Linked DNA regions of Homo sapiens: region 2 is linked to region 1. Evidence: fine-mapped expression QTL. A gene starts in region 1. The other region holds a variant in brackets. All regions are shown on one strand. Distances are from middle to middle.

Evidence for each region.
Region 2: its variant is fine-mapped to the expression of RGS11 in adrenal gland (GTEx, PIP 0.97).

What each region holds. Positions count from the first base shown.
Region 1 is chr16:271,939-280,791 of GRCh38, forward strand. RGS11 (regulator of G protein signaling 11) reads right to left here and starts at 4,006. Exons shown (of 17, transcript NM_183337.3): 1 at 3,911-4,006; 2 at 3,464-3,560; 3 at 3,345-3,395; 4 at 3,038-3,144; 5 at 2,276-2,327; 6 at 2,105-2,163; 7 at 1,822-1,898; 8 at 1,537-1,618; 9 at 925-993. The coding sequence starts at 3,973. It overlaps ARHGDIG (Rho GDP dissociation inhibitor gamma), which reads left to right and starts at 8,653. Exons shown (of 6, transcript NM_001176.4): 1 at 8,653-8,815. The coding sequence starts at 8,743. RefSeq lists enhancers at 1,010-1,546, 1,547-2,083, 3,271-3,922, 8,794-8,853.
Region 2 is chr16:957,718-966,570 of GRCh38, forward strand. The region is part of intron 1 of LMF1 (lipase maturation factor 1); the gene reads right to left. Among named protein-coding and RNA genes, the nearest start is that of LMF1, 8.8 kb to the right of the region's middle. RefSeq lists an enhancer at 2,267-2,767. The variant G/A (reference allele first, on the strand shown) is at 5,452.

The DNA.
Region 1 (8,853 bases):
CTATTCTCCTGCCTCAGCCTCTCCAGTAGCTGGGACTACAGGCATGCGCCACCAAGCCCAGCTAATTTTGTATTTTTAATAGAGACGGGGTTTCTCCATGTTGATCTAGCTGGTCTCGAACTCCTGAACTCAGGTGATCTGCCCGCCTCAGCCTCCCAAAGTGCTGGGATTAGAGACGTGAGCCACCGCGCCCGGCCTAATATGTCACATTTTCAAATGTACTTAAATTATGTTTTTAAACAACACATACTTGAGAAATACTACTAATGGGGATCACTGGGGAACCAGGTGTGACCTTCATTGGTCGGCACCTCGCTGGGGCCAGAGCGGAGGAGGCGGACGCGCTGCGAGTCCTGGCCTGTGTCCCCGCTCTCTCTGACCAGCTTTGTATGGGGAAATGTTAGGGTCGTGAACTTAAGAAGTTTTATCAGTGAGGTTCTAGGTGCATCTTTCCAGATGTTGGGTCTGGATGGGACTGGTTTGAACAAAGGGTTTTGCTGCTGCGGGGCTCAGATGCTCCCTCTGGTCTGGTCCCTCTGGTTCTGGAGGCCTCCACCTGGAGGGAGGTTGCTGGATCTGCTGAGGTCTGTCAGAGGCCGTAACCCTGCTTGTCACCCCTCCAATTCCCAGCAAACCCTGATACTGTTCTGGAGAAGAGCCCCCTTCCTCCCCGCCAGCCCCCTCGTCCCCACCACTCCACTTACCTGCACCCAGGGCAGCAGGTGGGAGGGGAGAGAAAGCGAGAGTTAGCAGGGGCCTGGGGAACAGGGAGTGACCGGGAGTGAGCAGGGGCTTGGGGAGGCTGCACCAAGTGCCCTCTGGGTGGACCAAATGACGGACAGATGGGCAGTCCCATGGTGCGTCCAGCAGGGTGCAGCCGGTGTGCAGGGTGAGAGGGCGGCCAGCACGCACGCAGGGGCTCACCATGAGCACACGGCTGGCAGCGCAGGATCCCCGCCCTGGACCCTGCTCCAGCACATCGGGGGCCCCGGGCTGCGGAGGGGAGACGAGATGAGGTGGGGATGCAGTTCCGGTGGCTGACCCCCTTTAAGGCTAAGTTCCCCCTCCCAGACCCCCATGTGGAAACTGACACTCAAAGGAACTCGGGAAGAGTCCCGACCTAGCCGTCAGCTGTCTCTTCTCTGCTCACCACCTCCAAATGGCCTGTCCACCGGGCCTCCCCACAGCCCCAGCTGCTCCCGGCCTGTGAACTCGGTCCCCCCACTGCAGCCAAGGCCGCCCCCACTCTGCCTGCTCCCGAGGCAGAGTCTGCAGTCCCCGCAATCTGGCATCCCTGTGACTCTCCCTTGGGCCCAGAGAGAAGCTGGCTTGTCCTGTGGTCTAGGGATGGAGACCTGGGTTCTGATTGGCAGAAACGCAACTAAGTCACGAAGTGAAAACGTCCTGCCCCCACCAGGAGCTCCAAGGCAGGTCCTTCCACAGGCTCAAAATGGTGGTCCTGAGAGCGCCTGTCAGGGAAGCACGCTGACCCCTGCGCTGGCCAGCGACCCCCACCCTCACCGCAGGTGGGCTCACCGGGGGCCTGTTCACCAGCCAGTAGGTCTGCTCCTGGCACGCAATGACCAGCCTGTCCCCCTTGCTGCGCTGCTTGGCTGCCCTGGGAGGAGGAGGCCGAGTTGAGGGCACGCCCTGCACACAGCAGCCCCTCCGCCCCCACCCTCAGGCCTGGACCTGGGCAGGCAGCCACACCCAGGGGTGCCCTCCACGGTCCCAGGGCCACCGGAGCCTGGCCTGGGCTGGGCTTCCCGGGTAGCCTGGGTTGGGCGCCTGCAGGCGGGGCGGGGCAGGGCGGGGCCTCACCTCAGCTGCTCCCTCGCCTGCATCAGCACCAGGTCCCATGCGTGGTTGATCTTCTTGTGTAGCCGGTCATAGCAGTCCTGGGGGCAGCGAGGTTTCCAGTGGGTCACCCCGGCCCCTGCCCCCAGTGAGACTGTGTGGGCAGTTGGGGGGTTGGGGACTGTCTTGGGTTTTGGGGCCTGGGCTGTATGTTCTGGGGTAAACCGTGAAGCCCCGGGGGGCCGTGAGTGAGGCTTGGGTTCCTCCAGCTGTACCCAGCCGGGGCGGGAAGGGTGGGGGGTCCCACCTTCTCATAATCCACCAGGGTCCCCCGTTTTCGGATGTTCTTCTTGGCCAGGTAGATGGCTGGAAGAACAGGGACAGCCTGCAGAGGGGCCAGCTCTGCCCTGCCTCACGGCATCACCCTGAGGCCCCCAGTCCTGGGAACTTGTCTGGGGCCAGCCGTCCCCTTGCTCACCATAGTCCAGCTCTGCAGCCGGCCTCAGGGTACTTGTCCAGAAGTACGGGGTCTGGCGTGGTGCAGGGAGAAGGTGTCCAGGACGCCTGCGTCTGTGCCTCCCCAGTGTCACCCCACCCTCAGACCTCCCTGGGAAGAAGCCTGGGCTGGGCAGGAGGTGTCTGAGGATCTCCCTGCCTGCCCACCACCGAGAGACTCCACTGACCACTGGCCAGTCTCTCCAACTAGAACTGAGGTCAACTCGCTCCTTAGGGCCCTGTTCAGACACTGCCTCCCTCACTGGTCACCCTAAGCCCCCATTCAAGGCGGGGTGGGGCTGGGGGCCTGCACAAGTCTTGGATGTAGTCACAGTCTGTGCCTGGGGAGGGGTACAACCGACGGCAGGTCGGCCCGGGACCCTGATGTGGTTAGGGAGGGCAGGAATGCTGTCCTCAGGCCTTCACAGCCCCTCCCTCAGGACCTGGGCCTAGGGACCCCCAGGAAGATGGCAGAATCCTCTGCACATACGACCCCTTGTGGGGCCCTGCTGTGGTCCCCAGGAAAACTGAGGCTCCATCCCTCAGCCGGGTCCTTCTCACCACATCCGTACTTGCGGTCCAGGACTTTTGGGGAGGGGGCGATGGACCACCAGCCCACGGCGACATGGCGGAGTCCCACTCCAATCCCAGCAAGCTCGGCGCCCCTCCTGTCTCCCCGAGTTGGTAAGCTGGGTGGGTGGGGGTGGGGGTCCCACCGGCTCCCACCTGCACCCCCGAGCCTGACCTGGAACCTGTAGGGCGTCTCGTCTGGCCGGAGCATGAGGCTACGGGGGTCGCGCAGCGGGTAGATGTAGCCATGCTGCACCAGGACGGCGCCCAGGTGCAGGGCCTCTGGGGAGGGGTGGGACGGTGAGCGCGGGGCCGCGGAAGCGGGCGAGGGCGGGACGAGCCGGGCCTCCTCTCCCCTATGTGCTCCCCACCCTTGCACAGCGCGCTCAGCAGGGCTCTGAGAACTGCCAGACTCCAGGAAAACCCAGGCCTAGGCCACCAGCCCAGTGACCCCAGGGCCCAGTGGGAGGCAGGGCGCTCACCCTCCTCCGAGACGCAGAACTTCTGGGCCAACCACTGCACGACGTCGCTGCCTGCACGGGAGAGACAGAGGTGGAGGGAGGCCGAGGCGCGCACGCACCCCCGCCCCGGCGCGCCTCACCTGTCACCGCGTGGGGAATGACGGTGACCAGCAGGCGCTGGCTCCGCATCTTCACGCCCTGGTCGGGGTCCTGCATGCTCACGACCACCCGCTCCATCTGGGCGGAGGGAGTCGTCAGGGGGTGTCTGGCCGCCCCGCAACCCTGATTCCCTGGCACCGGCCGGGATGCCCCGGATCCGGGAGCGCGGAGATTAACGCGCGGCGGCGGCGGATTCCAGGCCGCAGCTGGCGGCGGGGACGCGGGGCGGGCCGGGGAGGGCCGGGGAGGGCCGGGGAGACCCCGGAGACCCCCAAGGGCCCCAGGCCTCGCCGCCCCTCCCGGCCTCGCAGACCTCCGCCCCAGGCCCGCCCCGCCCCGCGCGCCCCCGTGTCCCCATGCTCTCCGGCCCCTCCCGGCCTCGGGCGCCGGGAAATCGGGGGACGGCGGGACACCCACCCGCCTCGCACCTTCCTCAGATGCGGCATCTGCGCCCGGGGGCGGCCGGGGGGCGGCGCGGGGCCGGCGGCCATGGCTGCGGGGCGAGGCCGGCGGGGATGACCGACGTCCCGCCCGGCCCCGCCCCGCGCCGCGCCGCGCCCGGGTTAACCCTCGGGCCGCGAGGCCAGAGTCGCCCAGGCCCCGGTTCGGGTTTTAAGAGACACGGCCACGGCCCAGAGGCAAACGAGCCGGCCCCCCACGAGCGACCCGAGTCACCCCCCCGACCCAGGTCCCGGGACGCTGAGGCCCTCGTGGGTGAAGGCGAAGTGGGACGGGGGAGGGTGTGGGCCGGGGGCCGAGGGGGGATGTGAGGGGATGGAGCTCAGCTGGAGCAGGGGGTGGTCTCTGGGAGAGGCAGAGGGGCTCATCAGCGAGGGGGGGTTACTATGGGGAGGGTCTCAGGGAGGGCAGCGGAGGGGATGGGGGTTCAGAGAGGGAGAGGGGTTCCGTGAGTAGAGGAGACCCGTAGGGAGAGTGAACTGGGGTGGGAAACGTGGTTTAGGGCCCACTGTAACCCCGGTCCTATGTGTGGGGCCCTGAGGACATACAGGGACTAGAGGCCTGGCTGTGGGGCCGGGGCCAGGGCCAGCGGTATGACTGCCCGAGGCCTTGTGTCCTGCGATGCTTGTGGCCAAGACTGCATACATTGCTGTGACGGTGGCTGGTTAGGGGCAGGGTGCATGAGAGATTGGGTCAGCTTTCTACATGGGCCGGATGCCGGCTGTCAGTGGAGCACGTGGCTGCTGCAGAGTGTGACCCAGCTGTCCCCATCTCCTGCTGTGGGTCCCTTATCCGGGGTCCTTCCGGGAAAGTGGCTGATGGCTCATGGCTCACTTCCCTCAGCTCCACGCAGGCCTGGGTGGCCCGCTGGGGAATGAGCAGAAACCCTGCCCAGGGCACCCTGACACTGTTGGAGAGGAGCTTTACTGCAGGGAGGCCCTCAACACACACCCACTTAGTGTCACCGGCGGCCGCCAGGCTTCAGGCCCCACTCCACTCCCAGCTCTCTCCCTCCTCCAATGGCTATGCCTGTCCCCCAGGTGCACCCCGAGCCAGGCCCAGGATCTTCAGGCCCCACCGGGCAGTCTCGGCTCACTGCAACCTCCGCCTCCTGAATTCAAGCAATTCTCATGCCTCAGCCTCCTGAGTAGCTGGGATTACAGGCTCCCACCACCACGCCTGGCTAATTTTTATTTTTGTTTTTGTTTTTGAGACGGAGTCTCACTGTGTCACCCAAGCTGGAGTGCAGTGATGCGGTCTTGGCTCACTGCAGCCTCCGCCTCCTGGGTTCCAGCGATTCTCCTGTCTCAGCCTCCTAGGTAGCTGGGATTACAGGCACGCGCCACCACACCCAGCTAATTTTTGTATTTTTAGTAGAGATAGGGATTCACCACGTTGGCCAGGCTGGTTTCGAACTCCTGACCTCAGGTGATGTGCCTGCCTTGGCCTCCCAAAGTGCTAGGCTTATAGGTGTGAGCCACTGTGCCTGGCCGATTTTGGTATGTTTAGTAGAGATGGGGTTTCACCATGTTGGCCAGGCTGGTCTCAAACTCCTGACTTCAGGTGATCCACCTGCCTTGGCCTCCCAAAGTTCTGGGATGACAGGTGTGAGCCACCACACCCGGTCGGATCATTTTTTAAAAACTAAGTCGAGGTCTCACTATGTTGCCCAAGGTGGTCACAAACTCCTGGGCTCAGTCCATCCTCCTGCCTCAGCTTCCCAGCGTGCTGGGATTAAAGGCATGCCCAGCCAGCATCTTTTTTTTTTTTTTTTTTTTGAGACTGAGTCTTGCTCTGTCAGGCTGGAGTGCAATGGCGCAATCTCGTCTCACTGCAACCTCCTCCTCCCAGATTCAAGCAATTCTCCTGCCTCAGCCTCCTGAGTAGCTGAGATTACAGGCCCCCGCCACCACGCTTGGCTAATTTTTGTATTTTTAGTAGAGACAGCATTTCACCTTGTTGGCCAGGCTGGTCTTGAACTCCTGACCTTAGGCGATCTGCCCACCTCGGCCTCCCGAAGTGCTGGGATTACAGGCCTGAGCCACCGAGCCCAGCCTCAGCACCATTTTTAAAAGGTGCAAATGCATCTATTTCTGCTTGCTTTCTTTATTTTTTAAATTATTTATTTATTTATTTTGAGATGGAGTTTCACTCTTGTTGCCTAGGCTGGAGTGCAATGGTGCAATCTCGGGTCACTGCAACCTCCGCCTCCTGGGTTCAAGCGATTCTCTTGCCTCAGCTCCCAAGTAGGTGGGATCAGAGGCATGCGCCACCATGCCCGGCTAATTTTTTTTTTTGTTTTTTTTTTTGCATTTTTAGTAGAGATGGGGTTTCACCGTGTTGGCCAGGCTGGTATCAAACTTCCTGACCTCAAGTGATCCACCTGCCTTGGCCTCCCAAAGTGCTGGGATTACAGGCATGAGCCACCGCACCTGGCCACTAATTTTTTTTTTAATTTCATTTTTATTTTTGTAGATAAATATACACGTAGCCCCTCGCTTATCCCTGTCTGTAAGGGCCTCAGTTTCTTGCTGTGTTGCCTAGGCTGGCTGATCTTGAACTCCTGGCCTCAAGTGATCCTCCTGCCTCAGCCTCCCAAATGTTGGGATTACAGGCATGAGCCATGGCACCTGGCTATGTATTTATTTTTTGAGAGATGGCAGTCTCATTCTGTCACCCAGGCTGGAGTGCAGTGGTGCAATCATAAACTCATTGCAGCCTCAAACTCCTGAGCTCAAGTGATTCTCCCACCCCAGCGTCCTGAGTAGCTGGGACTACAGATGTGTACCACCGCATCTGGTCTATTTCTGCTTTCTTGGAGGCAGAGTACCTCTCCCCATCCTTACCCACTCAGAGGGTGCTAGGGGCTGGGCAGGGTGGGCGGTTGGCCTTGGGCTGGGAGCCCCTAACATAGTGGTCTGAGTCCATTTCCATTGCCGGAGAGGCCACGTTCAGCATGAGCTGGGGCAGGGGGCTTGTGGGGTCTCTTACTCCAGGGTACCATCTCGCTTGGATCCCAGTGAGCCCTCCCATGCCCCACACCCAGGTGGGGTGAGGTGGCCCAGGTCTGGCTGCCCTGTCTGCAGGGGTGGGCACCCATGGTAGCTGTGAGGCAGAATAGGGAATGAGGGTAGCCAAGGGTTGGGCATAAGAAACGGAACAGCAGGTGCAGCCAGTTCTAGGCAGGATTGGGCAGCTCACAAGCCACATCCTGGCTGCTGTGATAACAAGACAGAAATTTCCACTTCACCTCTGATTGGTCTCGGGCCAATCCTTCATAGGGTGTAGCCAATTGGAGGCCTCTAAAGGGCACAAGGGCTGTGGTCAGGTTTCTTTGCTTAATAAAAATCCTAATTACAGAGGCTCTGGAGCTACTTGCTCCAGCCCACTCCCACTCTGTGAATTGCCTTCCGTTAAATCTGTGCTTTCCTTACTCCGTTCTTCTGACTCAGTTTTGTTTCCTTGTGTTTCGTTGTTCTTTTGTTACTTTGTGCGTTTTGTTCAATTCTTTGTTCAACCCACCAAGAACCTGGACAACTCACCTCCAAGACCTTCTATCTGGTAACAGCTGCAGGAGCTGGAGCTGTGGGCCTGGGGACAAGTGTCCTAACAGCCCCCGCTCCCTGCAGCGAAGGGTCAGCAGAGGTGGCGCTCTAGGGGGGCCTGGGCACAAGTTCATAGGATCCTGCCCTGGAAAGGTTGTGGGCAGTTGGGGGGCAAGGGAGACAGTCCCCACCCAAACCCCAATGCCCCCTAGCACCCAAGGTGGTCTTCTCTCAATTGAGGAGCTCTTTGGCAAGGGCGGGTCTAATTTCTGGTGTCCCTGGAACCGGCCAGGGGTGTCTAAGAAAGGGACTCAGGCTGGTGTTCGGACCCCTTCTCCCTTATCCAGACGCAGGCCTTTGGTCCAGCTGTCCCAGCCAGGGCCTGCTCACCCCTGTCCCCTGCCGGGTCCCATCCCCCCCACCCACCCACAGGTCTCAGTTTAGGTGTCAATATCAGAAGCCCCCTCTGTGCTCCGGTCTCTGTACTCCGCCCCCTTGTCAGTGTCCTCTCCCTGAGGACAGGGGGCTCGGTAACTGGGTTTCCAAGAGCCCTGCAGGGACACCCCCTCTTGGGAACTCACACAGCGCAGCCAGGTCGCTAAGCCTTTGAGGGGCCCTTGTTGCCTCCTGGGTGTGCGTGCGACCCGCGCCCACTGTGGTCCCGCCCTACTGATGACCGTGAACCTGTAGGGTGTTGGGCCAGCCCCTCACCCCAAGGCTGGGCAGGCCCCCGGAGTCCCCCTCGGCCCAGACAGAAGCTCCCTCAGGAGCGGGGGAGGGGAAGGGGGCGCGCGGTCCGGCCCCAGGTGTGGCCGCGGATAATGAGACCCTGGGGATGGGGGCGCACCTGCGCCACGGCGCCCCGCAGAGGGTTTCCCAGGAGACCCCCTCGGGCTCCCGCCGCGCCGTGGGGGTGGGGCAGCCCTGCTGGCCAGAGCCGGGCACGGGCCGGGCGGGCGGCGGGGATCGTGACCGCGGCTGCGTGCGTCCGCGTCCGGGCGCTTCTGTGCGGGGTCCTGGCACGCCGGCGGGGGCGACCCGGGTGCCGGCCCGTGCGGGCGACACGCGCGTCTCTGCGGGGCTGCGCGGGGTCCGGAGCGGCTGGGGGCTCTCTGCCGGGCGCGGCTGGGCGCGGGGGGCGCTCCCGGCCGGGATGAGCTCACCGCAGTCGCGCCGGGGCTGAGCGCCGAGCGGGGCGGCGGCGGGGCGGGCGGCGGCTCCTCGGCGGCTCCGCGGCGCCCGGGCCGCGCGCCGCCATGCTGGGCCTGGACGCGTGCGAGCTGGGGGCGCAGCTGCTGGAGCTGCTCCGGCTGGCGCTGTGCGCCCGAGGTGAGCGGGCCGGGCAGGGGCGGGGGGCTCGGCTGGTC
Region 2 (8,853 bases), 690 kb after region 1:
GTATTGATTAAGGAAGAGCCGCAGAACTCAATGGAATGGAAGAGACGGCCCAGACACAGCCCCCCTGCCCCCGACCCGACACACAGAGTGAACAAATTCTGACAAAGGTTCAAAGGCAACTACACAGACAAAGAGCAGCCTTGGGCCGGGCGTGGTGGCTCACACCTGTCATCCCAGCACTTTGGGAGGCTGAGGCAGGAGGATCGCTTGAGCCCAGGAATTCCAGAGCAGCCTGGGCAACATAGTGAGACTCAGTCTCTACAAAATAAATAAAAAAACAAAGAAGAGTCTCTGTAACAATCATGTTGGAACAGATGGATGTCCACATGCAAAAAGATGGACCTGAACACACTTCACACCTTACACAAAAATTAACCAAAAAGGATCATAGACCTAAATGTAAAACATAAAAGCATAAGACTTCCAGATGGAAATATAGAAGAAAATCTATGTGACTTGGGTTTGGCAACAAGTTTTTAGATACAACACCAAAAGCATAATCTATGAAATTAGAAACTGTAAATTGAACTTTATCAAACTGAAAAACTTTTGATCTGCAAAAGCTACTTTTAACAGAATGAAAACACAAGCCGCAGATTGGAAGAAAATACTGGCAAATCACACATCTGATAAAGGATTTGTATCTAGAATATTTAAAGAACTTTTAAAATTCAATAATTAGAAAACAAACAACCCAATGTTAAAGGTGGGAAGAAAAAACCAGGCCACAAGGTCTGAACAGACATAGGAAGGTGTACGGATGGCAAATAACACGTGAAAAGATGCTCAACATCCTTCATCACTGCGGAAATGCCCATGAAAACCACAGCGTGCTGTCACCACACACACGTCACATGGCCGAAGTGCTTGAAAACGGACAGTGCCCAGGCCGGGCGCGGTGGCTCATGCCTGTAATCCCAGCGCTTTGGGAGGCCGAGGTGGGCAGATCACCTGAGGTCAGGAGTTCAAGACCAGCCTGGCCAATGTGGTGAAACCCCGTCTCTACTAAAAATACAAAAATTAGCTGGGCATAGTGGTGCACACCTGGAATCCCAGCTACTCGCAAGGCTGAGGCAGGAGAATTGCTTGAACCCAGGAGGCGGAGGTTGGAGTGAGCCGACACAGCGCCACTGCACTCCAGCCTCGGCGACAGAGTAAGACTGTCTCAAAAAAAAAACCAAAAAAACAAAACAAAAAAAACACGAACATGGACAGTGCCCAATGCTGCAGAAGGTTCGGGACAGCAGGAGTGCCCTCGCTGTGCCGGGGATGCTGTGGCCTACCACTGTGGATGGCAGACGGTGGCATCTGACCCAGATAATGAAGGGTTACCTTACAAATCAGCTACTGCACCTCTCAGGCCTTCAACCTGAAAGTGTGCTCGCACAGAAGCCTCATGCAGATGCTCATAGCAGCTCTGTTCATAGCCACTAAAAACTAGAAACAAGGAAGACATCCTTCACGGTGGAAGTGGATAAATAACCGGAGGTGCATTTGTGCAACAGAAAAATAATCAGAGATAAGAATGCAGCTGTTGGTTCAGGCAATAACATGGATGAATCTTAAGTGCATTTTGCTAAGCAAAAGAATCTAGACCCAACAGGCTATATACTGCGTGATTTCATTCGTATGTCACACTGGAAAAGGCAAAACCAGAGGGACGGGAGACAGACCCGGGCGTGCCAGGGGCTGGTGCAGGGGAAGTGGTCACTCCCATGCACGGGGGACTTGGGGCTGGAGCTGGGGTGATGGAGGCAAAGCCCACAGCACTGAGCATTACACGAGATGAACTTCAATGTGCACAAACTATTGGGGGAAGACCCGACCAGGAGGTTGGGGGATGCAGATAGAATACAGGCTCCACACGCACGGATGTGAAACAGAAACACACTGGCCAGAGGGCAGGAGCCGCCTAAGCAACTCCGGAAAATGTTCTGAGTGGAGACCGCAAGGCCAGAAGGAGCTGTACACAAACGCTGCACTCCAGGGCTTTCCCCCCCGGGCCTGGGTGGACAATTCTCGCACGTGCACCAGGGCTGAGCAGATGCTAGAGGAGTCAGGGGAGCCAGGTTCCCACTAGCAGAGAGGGAGGATTCAGATGGGCCAGCAGGGAAGACTGGAATACACCGTGTGCCAGGACGGGAGGATGGAATACACCATGTTCCAGGACGGAAGGCTGGAATACACCGTGTGCCAGGTGAGAGTCAGAGTCATCGGCATGGACCAGGTTGACCTTCGTATACTTACAGATGGATAGGTGGATACGACAGAGAAGCAATCAAATGTGTGAAATGAGATAGTGACACACAGAGCCTAGCTCTACCCAGGAAGAGGGCCAGCAGCTGTGACACCCCGGGAGCAACGGCCCTCCCAGTGCCCAGACTGAAGTTTCTATGCTCCCCTAAAAAGAACCAGGGCTCCTTGGAAACAACTCATTCTAGGGCTGGGGCAGAGAAACAGAAGCTGGGCCGGAAGCATCCCTGCGGGGAAGGAGGGGAAACCCACCAGTGGTCAAAGCTGGAGGAGCTGAGCAGCAAACTCACAGTGACAGCACTGGATCATAACCCAGACAAAGACTCACAGTGACAACACTGGATCACAACCCAGACACAGACTCACGGTGACAGCACGGGATCACGACCCAGACACAGACTCACGGTGACAGCACGGGATCACGACCCAGACACAGACTCACGGTGACAGCACGGGATCACGACCCAGACACAGACTCACGGTGACAGCACGGGATCACGACCCAGACACAGACTCACGGTGACAACACTGGATCACAACCCAGACACCATCTCATGGTGACAACACGGGATCACGACCCAGACACAGACTCACGGTGACAGCACGGGATCACGACCCAGACACAGACTCACGGTGACAACACGGGATCACGACCCAGACAGACTCACGGTGACAGCACGGGATCACGACCCAGACACAGACTCACGGTGACAGCACGGGATCACGACCCAGACACAGACTCACGGTGACAGCACGGGATCACGACCCAGACAGACTCACGGTGACAGCACGGGATCACGACCCAGACACAGACTCACGGTGACAGCACGGGATCACGACCCAGACACAGACTCACGGTGACAGCACGGGATCACGACCCAGACACAGACTCACGGTGACAACACGGGATCACGACCCAGACAGACTCACGGTGACAGCACGGGATCACGACCCAGACACAGACTCACGGTGACAGCACGGGATCACGACCCAGACACAGACTCACGGTGACAGCACGGGATCACGACCCAGACAGACTCACGGTGACAGCACGGGATCACGACCCAGACACAGACTCACGGTGACAGCACGGGATCACGACCCAGACACAGACTCACGGTGACAGCACGGGATCACGACCCAGACAGACTCACGGTGACAGCACGGGATCACGACCCAGACAGACTCACGGTGACAGCACGGGATCACGACCCAGACACAGACTCACGGTGACAGCACGGGATCACGACCCAGACACAGACTCACGGTGACAGCACGGGATCACGACCCAGACACAGACTCACGGTGACAGCACGGGATCACGACCCAGACAGACTCACGGTGACAGCACGGGATCACGACCCAGACACAGACTCACGGTGACAGCACGGGATCACGACCCAGACACAGACTCACGGTGACAGCACGGGATCACGACCCAGACACAGACTCACGGTGACAGCACGGGATCACGACCCAGACACAGACTCACGGTGACAGCACGGGATCACGACCCAGACACAGACTCACGGTGACAGCACGGGATCACGACCCAGACACAGACTCACGGTGACAGCACGGGATCACGACCCAGACAGACTCACGGTGACAGCACGGGATCACGACCCAGACACAGACTCACGGTGACAGCACGGGATCACGACCCAGACACAGACTCACGGTGACAGCACGGGATCACGACCCAGACACAGACTCACGGTGACAGCACGGGATCACGACCCAGACACAGACTCACGGTGACAGCACGGGATCACGACCCAGACACAGACTCACGGTGACAGCACGGGATCACGACCCAGACACAGACTCACGGTGACAGCACGGGATCACGACCCAGACAGACTCACGGTGACAGCACGGGATCACGACCCAGACACAGACTCACGGTGACAGCACGGGATCACGACCCAGACACAGACTCACGGTGACAGCACGGGATCACGACCCAGACACAGACTCACGGTGACAGCACGGGATCACGACCCAGACACAGACTCACGGTGACAGCACGGGATCACCACCCAGACAGACTCACGGTGACAGCACGGGATCACGACCCAGACACAGACTCACGGTGACAGCACGGGATCACGACCCAGACACAGACTCACGGTGACAGCACGGGATCACGACCCAGACACAGACTCACGGTGACAGCACGGGATCACGACCCAGACACAGACTCACGGTGACAGCACGGGATCACGACCCAGACACAGACTCACGGTGACAGCATGGGATCACGACCCAGACACAGACTCACGGTGACAGCACGGGATCACGACCCAGAGGGAAAATAAATGGGCGTGGGTCCATAGTGACAAAATCAGTGACCACAAACAAGTAAGTAACAAGATCTTCCTCACAGAGGAATTCCACATAATGTCCGCAGACACTCCCTTCAGGAGGCGGGGGCTGGACCCAGTGAGCGGCTTCCAGAGGACAGAGCGGGCGGGAAAGCAGGGACCTGTCAGAGGGCACACCTGGCAGGCAGACCTTGGCCGGGTGATCAGAAAGCCGTGCGGACGTCAGGACCCTGATACGGTGTGACGGGAAGGGCCCCGCACCTCTGTGGGCGTCTTCCCAAAACCCATCACCCAGTCTAATTGCGAGGAAACACCAGACGGACCCAACGTGAGGGACGCTCTACAGACGCCATGACAGGCCTGCTTGACACTGTCAAGGTCGGAATCCTGCACAGGAAAGTCTGGGAGACTCACAGACCAGGGAGGGAGGGAGGAGACGCCAGGACAAAACCGGGTCCCAGAACGGAACAGGCACGGGTGGAAAAGCCATAGAGTCTGCAGTTTCAGTTAATAGTTTTATTTTTAATAAAAAAATTTTAAAAAGTAAAGGTTTCTCGAAGACTCTGCACCACTCAGTGCCCGGCATGAAGCGCTGTGAGCAGCCTCCCTCCAAGGCAGTGGGAGCAGGGCCACAGGCAGAGCACCGCAGGGCCCTGGGCGACGAAAGGGTCAGGGCTGGTGACCTCTAAAGGGGCTGCGACGGCAGGTGGGTGGGGGCAGCTCCAAGTGAGGAGGAAGAGGGTGGACACAGGCGGGCACGGGATGGACACAGGGTAAACAAAGGGCAGACACAGGGCGGGACACAGACTGGACACAAGGCTGGACACAGGGTGGACATGAGGTGGGACACAGAGGGGACTCGGGGTGGGTC[G/A]CAGGGCGGGAAACAGGGCTGCAGCAGAAGGCTCCCCACACCCCTACTGCCTCCACCACTGGGTGGAAGGGACCTGAGCTGTGAGCGCTGACCTCCTAGCAACATAGAGGACACCTCGCGGTAGGCCCTCAGCCCCGGCGGCCACACGTGCAGGGACCGCACCAGCAGCTTCCACAGCTCAGGCCAGTGTGTGTGCATATGGGTATGACATGCCCATGTGTCCCTGTGTGTATGTGTCTGTACACATGTGCACATGTATACATGTGCACCTGTGCATGGATGCCCTGTGTCCATGTGTGCACGGGTGTATGCATGTCTCTGTACACGTGTGCACATGTACACATGTATGTGTGCGTGTGCAGGGATGCATGTGTGTATGTCCTGGCATGTATGCAGGTGGGAGAAACACAGGTTGTGACTGTTCAGCCACTGCACACTCCAGGGCCCAGCCTTCATTGGTGCTAGGCTGGGGCCCCTTTCCCACAGGGACCTAATTGGCGCTAGCTGAAGGGTGGATGTGCTCCACCCCTCACCACAACGCAAACTCCAGGACCACAGAGGAAAACAAGATGTGGCCTCACCAAAGCAATAGCCTAAATCAGTAATTCTAAGGCAAGAAGCATAGGATGCTTCCTGCTTATCAGGAAAAAGGAAGACAGACTGAATTGAGATTTCAGAGAGAAAAAAACTATTTCAACCTCTACTCATGTTATAAAAATAGCTACATAAAAAGATGCAGTAAAAATCTTGAAACATCACAGGCTCTCAAAACAAAACTAACCAAGCAGTCAAGCTTCGGAAGGCCCCGTCACTACCCCACACGGGAGGCAGCAGAGCCATGGCGGCCACCCGCCTCTCACAGGGACCCAGAGCCTGACCTGGGAGCTGCAACGAGGAAATACCGAGGAAATACCGTGTCGCCCGAGCAGCCAACAGCAGGCATGGCCGATAAATACTTTGTTTCAGAATCAGAAAGAAATAGCTGGGCGTGGCAGCCTGTGCCCGTAGCCCCAGCTACTCGGGAGGCTGAGGCAGGAGAATCTCTTGAAATCGGAAGGCGGAGGTTGTAGTGAGAGGAGATTGCACCACTGCACTGCAGCCTGGGCGAAAAAGTGAAACTCTGTCTCAAAAAAAAAAAAAAAAAAAGAATCAGAAAAAAAAAATCAGCTTTCTCTTTTCTCCTTTCAGATAAATTGTTGTAAGATTAAAACAGTCATCCCAGAAATGCCGTTCTCTGTTGATGGTTCTTACTGGCCGTGGTTAAATTCTGGGCCTCAGCACAGTGACCTCAAGTATTTTTTCTTTAAGGGATGTGCTGCAGAGCTCCGAAGTAGGGCAGTGCTGTTTGCTTTTTAAACAAGCAAGTATTTTATAGAAGAACTTGTAAAACCAAGTGGTGCATTTCATTAGAACTCAAGTGGCCCGGAGAAAAGAAAAAGAACTCATTTCCCATGAGCTCTTAGAGCCACTGAAAGCTCAGAACAAAACCAACTGAGCAGGGTTTCAAGTATTCTTTTTGGTTTCATTTTCTCCTCAAATTTTCTGAAGAACAGCTGAGAGTTTAGCAAATACGGGTGCAAACGATTCTGCCTGCCACGTCAACCCTGCCTCGGGTGTCATCTGACGAGGATGCCAAGCTACAAGGGCTGCGGTGAGACTCAGAGACACGCTACCAATGGCACCGCGGCCCCACCTCGCCGAAGCAGCTGCCGGGGAGACGCGATAAAACTGCCCCACGCGGAAAAGAAGGAAGGGCGGTGAGCAGGCGCACAGAACAGACGCCACAGTGCGGCACGCATGCCTCCACGCCTAAAGGACAAAACTAGCATGGAGATCCCCTAGAGGTCGGATTTTCAACATAATCTCAGTGAGCCCAGGACTCCAATGTGACAATGTGGAACTGGAAAGACGAGCAAGAAAAGCCCCTCCGTTCCCGCCAGCGTTGGGCATTCCTTCTGCAGTCCAGGCTGTCCCCGTCACTCGGGATCACAGCCAAGCGGTGGGTTCTGTGTGGTGCTTGGCTCCTAGGGCCTCGCGGAAGCCATGTTCTTCTCCATTCAGCTTCATGGAGAGACTTTCCCAGGTTTCAGCCCACGCTACGAAGCTAGACAGGAGAGTGGCCCCCACCCGCCCTGTTTGGAACCCAGCTGGGGCATGCGGTGTTTGGAACACATGGGCAGATTGGGGAGAGGCCAGAAGAGCCTCATCCAGAGCCAAGGACAAGCCTTGAGGCTGAAGAGCTCACCAAGGCCACTACAAGAGAGCAAAAAAAAGAGCCTCAGAGACTCCTCGATAAATAACCAGAACAGAGAGCAAAGGTGGAGAGCAGGAGGGCAAGGCACTGAGACTTTAGAAGCTTCCAGGGAGAAGAAGAGTCAGATGCTTGAAGATGCCTCCTCAATGCTGCAAAGCTCTGAGGGAAAGTGGCTTTGATGGAGAATTAGAGATCCGGGCAAGTTGGTCCTTTCTGGAAAAGCTGCTTGGGGATACACTCCAGCAAAAAGAGAATCCACCAGCAAACAGGAAGGCATGAGCAGCCCAGGAAGTATGAACACAACCAAGGGAGGGCTGTGGCAGTATCTGTCCTGCTGGGCCGCACCTCGGGGCTGGAGGTGGGTAGAGGGGAAAGAAGGGGTAATGGCTGGAAAAGTGTCCCATGCTGACACTAAGCCCTGGTAGAGACCACCTGCTACGGGTCAGCACATTTCACTGAGCAGGAGATGCCCCTAGAAGACAAGGGATAGAGGTATAAAGAAAGTCCTCTCCCTGACTGCAAGGAGCTAGAGGGGAGACAGGCACAAGAACAACACTGGAATGGGGACAATATCAGCCGCAAAGGAAGCAGAGAGCAGGGCTCCGGTGGTCAGCCCTGGGTGGGGTCAGGAGTCCACGAGTGATGAGGGCTAAGTCTGAAGGCCAGAAGGGTGTCGGCAGCCACGGAGAGAACAAGTACAGTTAACCCTGGGAAGGCAGAGGCCAGGTGGTCTCAGGACCACGGTCAGGAAGAGATGCCTCACGTGGCGGGGACACAGCGGGAGCAGTTCAGGCACCACGGCTCGTCCACTGGGGCCCCAGCCTCTCACTGCAAGCAGTGCAGGTGGACATCTGCCCCAGAGGCAGCAGGGAGCGTGTGTCCCAAAGCCCCCAGCACTCATGCCCTGTGCAGGCGCCGAGCAGCCGGCCCTGGCCGGGGCGGTTCCCTCCTAGGCCTGTCCAGGACTCGGCCCCCACAAACACATGGACCGACAGACGAAATCCCTCAGGAGTGTCTCTGCGCCGACGCCATGGCACCCACGAAAAGTGCCACACATAAAGTCAGTCTGCAAATGCCAACGTTACCCAGTCTTCATGTCACATTTCACCTACAGATCCCTTCCGAATTGTAACAATATCTCATAAATG